3 linked regions of the Homo sapiens genome follow. The protein of the gene in region 3 interacts with the protein of the main gene of each other region in a biochemical or structural test. Each region holds a gene or a part of one and is shown on either strand. Other genes may lie near its edges.

The links.
Region 1: of the proteins of FAM20C (region 3) and SLC2A2, one has a biochemical effect on the other in vitro, tested with the Homo sapiens proteins (one large-scale study listed by IntAct).
Region 2: of the proteins of FAM20C (region 3) and ECM2, one has a biochemical effect on the other in vitro, tested with the Homo sapiens proteins (one large-scale study listed by IntAct).

What each region holds. Positions count from the first base shown.
Region 1 is NC_000003.12:170,999,054-171,002,720, forward strand, and holds part of SLC2A2 (solute carrier family 2, facilitated glucose transporter member 2), read right to left. Parts: intron 3,628-3,667; coding exon 3,523-3,627; intron 114-3,522; coding exon 12-113; intron 1-11.
Region 2 is NC_000009.12:92,533,891-92,537,490, forward strand, and holds the start of ECM2 (extracellular matrix protein 2 isoform 1 precursor), read right to left. Parts: upstream 2,101-3,600; 5' UTR 2,043-2,100; intron 1-2,042. UniProt on the Homo sapiens protein: Promotes matrix assembly and cell adhesiveness.
Region 3 is NC_000007.14:195,538-199,267, reverse strand, and holds part of FAM20C (extracellular serine/threonine protein kinase FAM20C precursor), read right to left. Parts: intron 3,715-3,730; coding exon 3,536-3,714; intron 2,136-3,535; coding exon of another isoform or gene 1,768-2,135; exon of another isoform or gene 1-1,767. UniProt on the Homo sapiens protein: Golgi serine/threonine protein kinase that phosphorylates secretory pathway proteins within Ser-x-Glu/pSer motifs and plays a key role in biomineralization of bones and teeth.

The sequences.
Region 1 (3,667 bases), on a different chromosome or scaffold from region 3:
ACCAAACTTACCAGCAGCACAAGTCCCACTGACATGAAGATGGCACAAACAAACATCCCACTCATTCCAATTAGAAAGAGAGAACGTCGCCCTGCCTTCTCCACAAGGAATACCTAGGACAATTTTAAAGAAATTATCTCAGTTTTGTGAGTCACAAAATATTGACTGTTTACTTAAATCATTTTTACTGCCAAAGAGGTCATTTTAATTTATATAACAGATAAGAGGCAATTCCATCCTTCCATTTTACAGGAGTGAGATCAAGGTGGGGAGTGACTCTAGCCCCAGGTGGCAGAGCTAGTTTCAGTGGACAGCGGGTAATGATCAAATATCTGCTTAATTTAGTCACATTGGTTTGAATAGACCATTATAGAGATAGAACCATAATGTTACCACTACTCCAGGATTATCACTTTGGGTACAATATTCACAGACTGTACAGCTGGGGTCTCTTCCAATAGATGTCCTGTACATTTAAAATTTGAAGGTTCCACATTTAAACATGACATTAACTTATTTTCTAATAGTTATCCTAAGTTATAATTACAAGGGTCTGTGCACTATTGACACCGGAAACAGTACAACTGTTCAGGTGTCAACTATTCTCATCCAATTTTCTCACTGCTTAATAAAGTCCTATTATGACCACTCACCTAGCAACATGTGGAATTTGATAATTGAACCAAAATAGGCCTGCATTTTTCTGGTATGCTTAATTGTATCTTGTGCTGGGAGTGAACTATTCGTTTTAAAAGTTAGCACTTTAAAGCAAAGGGTTAAAATGCTTTCTTATCTTAACTGAGGAGATACGTCATTGATTCCTTTAGTTTTGTGGACCTTTGCATTAATGGTTAAGTTTTACAATTAGCCAAGACCAGAGTTTGTTATACTCTTGCCTGATCCTTGGAATATTACCAAGGCTGGTGAGTCACTCTCCCCCTCACCCCCCACAAAACTTCCTGTCATAATTTCTCACTTTGGCACCTGGTGAGCAAGTTGGCTGGCTCATCAGCCTATCAGTAAATCAATAGCAATCCAATGTCTTTAGTATAGTGAGCTCTGGCTCTGAAGACATCTTAGAAACATTTCACCTACAGTGAAAGCCTGTTTCTCAGAGGCACACTCATATCAGAGTTTTAAATCACTTCAGATAAGATGATAAGCTAAGAGCACATATTTAATTATTGAGAAGGAAGTTGGAAAAAACAGACTTTTCTCAAGTTCATTAAATTTCTCTCTATATTTTAACTCTTTTATTATGATGTTCAAAACTGGCTTGGTGCCACCACGTCAAGCTACCAAGAAAATAGAAGCATTTCTTTGTGAATAAGCTCCCTTACTATAAACTCTAAAACTGAACATCTTGAAAATTGAGTTGGCCTCTGTCCCTGAGGCCTGGTGTACACTCAGGATGAGTGTGACAAGGAGTGAGACATGGTCAGTGGCTGGAGATGTCTTCCCAATTAGAACGCTCATCTTTGCCCCAGGGCCTCACGCAAATCCTGGGCTCTTAGTTCCAATTTGGTAGTCACCGCTTCTTTCTCAGTGTCATCCTGCTTCCTAGATCCCTCCATTTTCTTTCTGCTTTTTTTCTCTCAAGATTACAGGCCCTCTTCTACCAGCCCATTAGTGTGGAAGAAAATATAGGATGTGGAACACAATTAGTGTGGAGTTGGGAAAGTCTCTCTTCCCAAAAACAAACTGATGTTCTTCCAATTTGGTGAAACATTAATATATTCAGTGCATATTTCTATTTGCATATTTTTATTTGAAAGTACACACACAATTTGGTAACATTGGTTAATTTTGGGGAGAGAAACTGGGTGACGGAGGGACTATCCTTTTTATACTTTTTGAACTTTAAAACAATGTTTCAAAAATTAATATAATTAAAAATTTTAAATGTGATCTGTAGTCCTGGAGGCTTAATTAATGATTTGGACTGGTTTTAAAAGATTATGTCACTTCCCTGTTCAAAAACTTAAACAGAATCAAAGGATGGACTCTAAAAAGGTACATTCAAAATAATTAGGACACTGTCTTAAACAACTCCTCCCACATCAGTGGGGTTGGGAGCAGGGTGCAAAAATGAAACTTTACAGAAGTTTCCTCTTTAGATTTTTTCAGAATTTAGGCTACCCAATCTTGACAATTTGATGCTTTACATAGAAAATCCTATTATACACAAAATGTTTTAATAATAATCTATCATAAAAAATATGTTGAAGAATTTGTAAAAAATATTCCAGGAGACAAAAGGGTGAATAGTCCCTTGGATTGCACTTCAGAAACAGGTCTTGATTGATTTAGAGTGGCCTTTTGGTTTAAACAGGCCTTATCTCTAAAGGTATGTCTACAGAACCATTGGTGTTTCGTTATTATCTGTTTTTCCTGCTCTTTCCAAGGTCCAGCACTGTTTAATGTGGTCTGGACAAACCTGCCTTTTGATCTGGGTAGCCAGGCTGTAATTTATTGATCACCCTAAGGTAATAGTTAAGAGTTCATGTGCAGAGAATAAAAAACAAGTGACTAAATTATATTGAGTATAGTATTGTGACTAAAATTGAAAAGAATAAACTTTTTGCTGTTTTTATCTTGTTGAACAAAGATAAAAATAAGCTCAATGACTCTCATTCTACAGTGAATTACATTAGTTGGGGAGTTTTTGTCTTTATTGTTGTTTGTTTACTTCTTAGATTATTATGTTAGATATTCTTGTTGTCAGGTTCTTATATATCCTTAATATATAAGAACCATCACTTCTTATATATCCTTAATATATAAGAACCATCACTTCTTATATATCCTTAATATATAAGAACCATCACTTCTTATATAAAGTTATTTGGTTTTAAGAAGAGTATATGACTTTTTTTTTTGTTGGAAGAAAACAATAACATTTCTAGTTACTATGTCACTTCCCTCATAATCTCACACATACTCTCATGCATCACCGGAAGCCACAACCTTGTGAACTACTTGGAAGCTCTGCTCAATGGCTTAATACCATTTGCTGAGTCTGTTTAACTTTGCTTAAAGGCTTAAATGTCTGTTAGAGAGGGCCTTGTTTATTTATTTTTATATGTTTCCCCCAAGGCACATGGTAAAAAAAAGAATTTGAACTATGTAAAAAGAGGAATCTAAGTAGACCATCCAATATCAATAGAAATGACAAGCTGTCAGCTACTCCCAAGGGGTTTATGTACAGAGAAAAGAAGGAACCTAGGAATCTGCACAAGGAGGAAGTTCTCTGTGTCCCCAAGTGAGTTAAAAATTCACAAATGAGTGACTAAATGGCATCCCAGCAGTGCAGAGAATCAGCGATTCACCTCAGTTATGCCTAATCTCAATGCAGTGGTTGGCTTATTCAAACAGGACTCTTCTCATGACTCACTTGGGTTTACACACTTAGAGCATGTGTACAATAAGTCATTGATTGCTTTTAGAGCCGAAGTTCCCCACCCCTCCTGCAATTTCTGGACTAAGGAACAAGCAGAGTATTTATCTAGGGCATTGACTTACAGAGACAGCAGTGAAAACCATGTTTACAGCGCCAACTCCAATGGTTGCATAAACAGGTTTGCTGATACCAGCCGTCTGAAAAATGCTGGTTGAGTAGTAAAAAATCTGCAAAGTAAAAACAGGTTAGCCTTAATCTTAAGAAGTC
Region 2 (3,600 bases), on a different chromosome or scaffold from region 3:
TGTAAGAAATTTTTTTTCTTTCTATAGAAATTTTTTTCAAATTTTCAACATATCTTTGATATTTGGAAGTTTTACCTTGGTAAAAGAATGGAATGTACCTTGGTATAGGTTGTTTTTGCTGTTTAATGTATCCTTCTTGGGATCTTTTAAACTAAAAACTTCTTTTTTTCCTATACAAGCTCTCTTCACTCTGTTTTCTCCCATGACTGTTCAAGGGTACATTTTTCCTCTTTAAATTCATTTCTGTCTTCTCTTTGTCTGTGAAGGACTCCTCAGAGTGTCTGTCCCACCAGGAGCTCCCCTTTTTATTTCCTAGTGTAGCTGTATATTCGTGCATTTATTTGTCTGTAATATATCTTGTATTATTTCAAGGGAGTTGGTGAGAGGGGAAGAGGGCACAAGGTCAGCTCAGTTTCCCCTCTTGAATCTCAGTACTTCTTTTTATAACTTCATCTGCCAGAATCATCTTCCTCTAGTCAGGTTTCACTTAGTTAGTTCATAGTCTGACTTGCCACATCACCTTTGTTCAACAAACGGCAGTCTCTAAAGTATCTTCATGCCAGCATACAAACCTTTCTTCAGCGTATATATACATTAATTGCCACAGTCATTTGAAAACCATTACTATAGGTTATTGAAATGACCTATATTTCATAGGTTACTGGAACAACTTTTTGAACAACTTTTTGCAATCTACTTTAGTTTTAGAAAAATTAACATGCAGCATGTAAAGAAGGACCAAATCCATTAGCTGATTGGCACCTGAAATCATAAAAGTCAATTCAGAGAGCAAAGTAGTATGTTGGAAGGGAATAACAACAACAGCAGGGGAAAGCAATATGAAAACCTGAACTGAGAGACAAAGTGAAACTAGAATTTGCTGAGTGGCATGGCAAGTGTGCTCTGATGGATATCATAAGTGCTCTGCAATGCATGAAATGTATACATTGAAATTTTCTTGCATTAACAATTGTATGTGCAGACCTTCCATCCTGTTGTGAGGAGTCAGGGCCTAGACCTCGAGGCTCTAGAGTTAAACTCTCATGAGGGTCTCAGGCATCCTGCTGTCCTGAGGCATCCTGAAAGCACTCACTTATGGGGCATTGCCTGATTGAGTGCTTAGGAGTGTGAATGTGCCAGCTGTGGCCATTCTGAGCACACCCCTCTCTCCCAGTATCCTCATTCTGGAAACTACCTCTCTTTCTTTTTTTCCCCCAAATTGACTCACTTTTACTTACCCAGAAATCTAAATAGATAGGCACAGAAATAAACTTACAGAGCTATTTGAATTTTGACAAAATCAGTATCTAAACAGTCTCACTACAGTGTTTAAATACATTTTAGGAAATGGTCTCTCAATACTAATTTTACTATTAATGCTTAGGCCCTCATTATTTTCATTGATATACAGAATTTTGCTTTGCACTTAATATTTGCTTTCATAAACAACTTCGTAATTGAGTGTTTGCCTCCTAGAGGTAAATTTTCTGGGATTCCAATCATAGTATCATTTTTATCAAGTAATTTTTTTCCTTCTAGCACTTACTGTGTTTATCCCAACATTAAATATTATTTATAAACCTTGATTAACTTATTTTTCTTCATTTAAAATTTCTTACCAGTTATCTTAAGTAAACTTTAAAAATATTAATTTAGAATTTTAAAATTCTACATGAAGTCATGAGATGTCTATTATCTATTTTCACTTCATTCAACAGATTTAAAATGAAAAATATTTTGAATTATTTATGTTCTTTTAGGACTTAAAAATTAATAATATTTTCAAACCAATTTATACTTCTATTGAACACATAATTCCACCTAAACATATAAAAATAATTTAATACTAAGTATACAAGGTCTGAAATACTTGGGAAGTACATCGTGAAAAAAACAAACAGAATAATGCATACTTTGAACTTTAAAAATCTATTAGTAACGAGCTAATTTACTCAAGAGTTAAACAGTTGTGAAATAAAATACCCAAATATTAAAACCATTCCACATGCTAAGTAGAAACTTAAAATTTAAAACTTTTTTACCTGGAGATCTAAACTAAGTAGGCTTTGCTTGGTGTCATTTAAGTCTCCAGCTGAAAATGAAACAAAATCAGAGCTTTCTTTAAAAACAAAGAAAGGACAGAAGGGAATGTTGAAAAGTATTTGCTGAACTTCTTAGTAAAATCTAAAATAACTGCCTCCCTTGGGGATAAATGCCTTTCAGTTCTTTGTGCAGAAAATCAGCCAAGAAAGTAACCAGGGAAAATGGTTACCAAGGGAAATATTTTTTTTAATCATAAGAAAAGTAGAAAACAGCAGTGGGTGTGGGGGAAGAGCATTTTGTTTGCAGGCTGAAAAGGCAGAGTTGGAAACACAAAAATGAGCTTGATTAAGAAATCTGTGGTTTTCATAGACTATTCGCATTAAAAATGTTAAAGTTTATACTAGCCAGGATGATGTCACTTGAGCTTTATCAGATTATAGGGATGATATTCTCGTCAGCTAAAGGCTGTGTATATCTGGAATCTATTTTAAATTGGATTAATAATATTTAACTCATCTGCCCACCCACCTCGATCTCACACACAATACTAACAAAACGACAACAACAAAAAAATGGTTACGTATTAATATCAGTGGAAATTATGTAACTTCTAACCATGAAATAATAGAAAGAAAATGTGAAAGGGAGCTGTGTGGCTCCTAATTACCTGTTACGCTGGCAAATTAGTTGTGTACTTTGGCCTCAGTTTCTTTATCTGCAAATGAGAAGTTAGAGACAGATCAGGATTCCAAGCGCAACCCTGCTGTTTATGAGGGACCTTGAGTAAGTTACTTAATGTTTCTGACCAAAGTTCACTCTTCTGTAAAACTAGGGTGATACCTTTCAAATTTTTCTGAAAATAAAAGGAATAACAGATATGAAGGTCCTAACTCAGTGCCTATCCTAGACTAGGTAATTTTAGAACTATTTTTTAAATTTTTTTTTTTTTTTTGAGACGGGAGTTTTTGCTCTGTTGCCCAGGCTAGAGTGCAATGTCGTGATCTCAGCACACTGAAACCTCCGCCTCCCAGGTTCAAGGGATTCTCCTGCCTCAGCTTCCCGAGTAGGTGGGCTTAAAGGCGCCTGCCACCATGCCAGATTAATTTTTGTATTTTTTTTTTTAGTAGAGATGGGGTTTCACCATGTTGGCCAGGCTGGTCTCGAACTCTTGACCTCATGTGATCCACCCACCTCGGCCTTCCAAAGTGCTGGGATTACAGGCATGAGCCACCGCACCTGGCCTGAAATTCTTATATCGTTATTTCAGGGGTCCAAATCATTTGGCAAAGAGGAGCTAAATATTTGTTTAAATGACGTGGTTAGACTGAATCAGGATTTTGTAAAATGACCTAGATAGACTGAATCAAGATAAGGGACTAAATACATAAGCCACTCAACTTCCTAAAAATAAGGAAAATGATATCTATTTTTAAAAATGTAAAACTAGCTGAGTGCAGTGGCTCACACCTGTAATCCCAGCACTTTGGGAGGCAGAGACAGGTGGATCACCTGAGGTTAGGAGTTTGAGACCAGCCTGGCCAACATGTGAAACCCCGT
Region 3 (3,730 bases):
CCTAGCCAGAGGCTGCTATCTCAAGCAGCTGGGTCTTCACCCAGATCCTCCAACTGGAAGTTCGTACTCAGAAGGGCCCTCGGAACAGCCGTGGCTGAGTCAGGCCAGCCAGGCAGCAGCAAGCGGGGTCAGCAAGCAGGTCAGCCCCCTTCTAGGACAGATCACATCCTCCTGGCCTAGGCCAGCCCTCTTGTGCCGTTCCCTGCAGACCAGGAGACCTGGACCTGGACATGGAGCAGCTCCCATGGCACACTTGGTTCACAGGTGAGGGTCCCCTGCTTCCTCAGGAAGACAGACCTCTTCACAAATGAGAACTCACCTGTGAGCATCTCCAAGCCCAAGGCAGCAGGGAGAATAGGGCCCAGCATCTAGACTGAGACCCTCATGAGGCTCAGGCACCTGCCCAGCCCTGGCTTCCCCAGATGAGAAGGATCAGCCCACCTTGAAATGCTGCTGCTGTACAAAGACCCCACCCAGTAGGAGAGCTTCCCCCAAAATGCTGCAGTGTTGGAGACCCTGCCCAGCAGGTGCGCTGTCAGGCTCCGCTCTCACCTCTTTACTCGTATTTGCACATTTAAGCCCCAACAACCCTGTGAGGCCAGATGTATTTGGGAACTGCAGGTATTTCGATGACAAAGGCACACGTGGTGCATGGTGTGGATCATGGCATGCCCACACGGGTCTAGGGCAGAACCCCATAATTAAACCCACTCCTGTTCCTCAGAGGAACATGTGACTATTCAATGTAACAGAGAAAAATCAGGACTTTTAACTAGCCTCGACAATTTAGGTTTTGCCCCTAAATACGTTCAGCCTGAGTCAGTTTTCGCTAGTGAATGGGTTTTGCTTGGCATTCAGATTTGTAAGTCAGAGTCCAGATTATACCAGGTCCAGATTATAACCTTCTCTGTGTTCTCGGTGAGAAACCAGGTGCTGGAGGCGTTAATCCATTTGCCCACTTCCACTCTGGCTAATGGCTGGCAGAGCCAGGATTCACCCCCAGATCTCCTGGGCCAGAGCCTGCTGTCCTGCCTGGGTGATGCGGCTGTGTCTGCCCATCGTCCTTGCAGGCCCTGCTTGGCCCTGCAGAATGACTGAGCAGCCAGCCTGTCCTTGGACGGGTCCCCACCCCAGAAGACTGGATGAGAACCAATGTGGCCAGCATGGTCTAGGAGGCGAGCGAGCGAGATCAGCTGGGGCAGGCCTTCAGTAGGCACAGGAATTAACCAGGACACACCCAGGCGGAGGCCACACCAGAATCCTGGGGTAGGGATTCCCTGGCAAGGGCTCTGTCCACACCCCTGCAATGTCAGGCAGCCTGGGCACCACTGCCCCGGGACAGCTGGACCAAAGAGGGGTGGCAGTGAGCCAAGCCTAGCTTGTCCAGATGGACAAAGCACTCCTAAGGTGGGCAAAGATGCCCCAGGTCCCAGGGGGCCCCACACTCTCCCTGAAGCTGCTCTGGGAGCTCCTGGCACAGAACTCCCACACCTCTTCAGTGTTGGTGTTGGAAAGCTGACCGGTCGGTGAGGGAGGTGGCGAGCTGCAGTTGCCTGCCAAGGGCCTGGTGGCCTTTGGAATCCACAAAGCCCTCCCTCTGCTCAGACCCTGCCTGTGCACACGAGGGGACTGTTGTGGAAGGCCACGCACAAAGTACTAGTTAATATTTAACAAGCTTGCTCACATGCACATCTCATCCTATCCTTGCATTGGTCCCACGCAGCGAGATCCCACTGGACAGATGGGGAAAATGAGCTGGAGAGAAGCTCATACGGACAGCGGCACTGGGGACTTTCTAACTTGCGTGCTGCTCCTCCCGAACGCCCTGGCTGGTGTGCACGGCTCTCTCATTCCTCTCCCTGCCAAGACGGACCCACCTGGAAGGTAAGCTGCCCGACAGACCCTGTGGAAGGTCCTCAGCCCCTCCCAGTGGAGCCCCCTCCTCTCCACACGGCCTGGCTGGCGTGCACGGCTCTGAAGTGCTCGTTCCTCCTCAGGATCGGGCACTGTGCGTGTGTGTCTCTTCCTGGGGCTGTCAGGTCCACAGAGGCAGCAGATCTCGTTGAGGCTGAACTCATCCTCAACTCCCCACCACCCAGAAAGGGGGTCTGACATGCAGGAGGTGCCAGTAAAATCTGCTGAATGGACAAACATGTTGATCAATGCATCGGATATTTCCTTAATGGCCATGCTCACTCTCAGGGGCAGAAGGGACGTTCTGGCTGTGGCTGTCTGCAGGACTGTTCCCCAGCACAGCTGAAAGCCCTCAGACCGCTGCAGGGGCAGGAGAAAGGCAGCGCTTTCACGGAGGGGGGCCTGGAGGGGGGCAGGGGTTCAGGTTACTCCCAGGCAGCATGGAGGGAAGAGGACTCCCAGCTTGTCCAGCTGATCTCTGTTATGAGGTGAGCTGATCAAGGGGTGGGGAGAGAGCTGCAAGTTCTGTCTCCCCATGACCAGGTGAGTGCCCAGCAAACAACTCAGCACCCGGCAGAGAGAGCCAGAAACAGCCCCGAAGAGCTCAGGAGAACCTACCTGCTGGCCTGAAAGGGGACACCTAAGTCCTGTGTCAGCAACTGGACAGAACCCCAGGCTGCTGGGACCCTTTCAGCACCAAGGTTGCTTCTGAGACACACATGAAGCTAATGCCTGGGACTGCTGGCCTCATCACACAGCGCAAAGAAAGCCCTGCCTTCAGGCTGTCATGGCCTCTGCACCTGCCCACAGCTGTGTGCACCCAGGCCCACTCCCTGCAATCCCCGGGGAGCAGCTGCTCCCACTAAAGGGCCTCAGCCCCGCCCTCACTACCTCTCCAAGCACTGGTGACAAATGGGACCTTCACAAACAATCGCCTACAAGCTGAGAACAATGGCACCAAACCTCCACGCTCAGAAGCTGCAGTGGCATATTTTCCTGAAATCAGCAACTGGATGCCCTTTTTTGTCCAATTCAGCAGATCCCAAAGTACCTGGAGATGTTGCCTTCAAACTCCTCCATCTGGGAGGCCCAGGCCTCCGTCCTGAGCCCTGCCTATGTCTCCTCAGTATGAAACTGCACAGCGCCTTGCTGAGGTCTGACGAAGGACGGCTTCAAAACCACAAGAAGCAGGCTCATGGCTGTCTCCCCACCCAGCCAGGGTCGTGTGTAGAAAAGCAGGAGAGTTCCATGCACACGCTTCCGGTGGAGGGGTCACCGCCGCCAGAGATACCCCTCTATTCCTCTACCCCAGGAGGGAAGGACTCTGTCATCCAGTTGGCACCCCCGGGACCACCCAGGTGAGGACGCAGAGCGCAGTGGACCGGCTGTCCAGGCGTCTCCCCGCTCATCGTGCGGCAGATCAGGAGCACATCCAGTGTGAGAGCACACGAGACGCGAGCCCTCTGTCCCTCCTCGCTGCCCGTGCAGATTGCTGCAGGAGGTGACGCTGCCGTAATGAGCAACGGCCTCCCAGACCTCTCTAACACATAGCCTGCCCCAGCAGCCCTGATGCCACACAGCCGGCACACAGACGGCCCTGAGTGCACCCAAGGACACCTACCCACGCTGGTGATCCTCTGGGAGCTGAGGTCGTGCAGCAGGGCCTCGATGGCCGGGTTGTGTCTGGAGTACAGCTCGTACCGGTTGATACCAATGTGGAACTTGAGCCAGTTGGGATAGGAGTCCACGGCCGCCTCCCCGGGGGAGAGGAATTCTGCACCTTCAGCACCCGCATGCGGCCTGCAGGGAGCAGCGA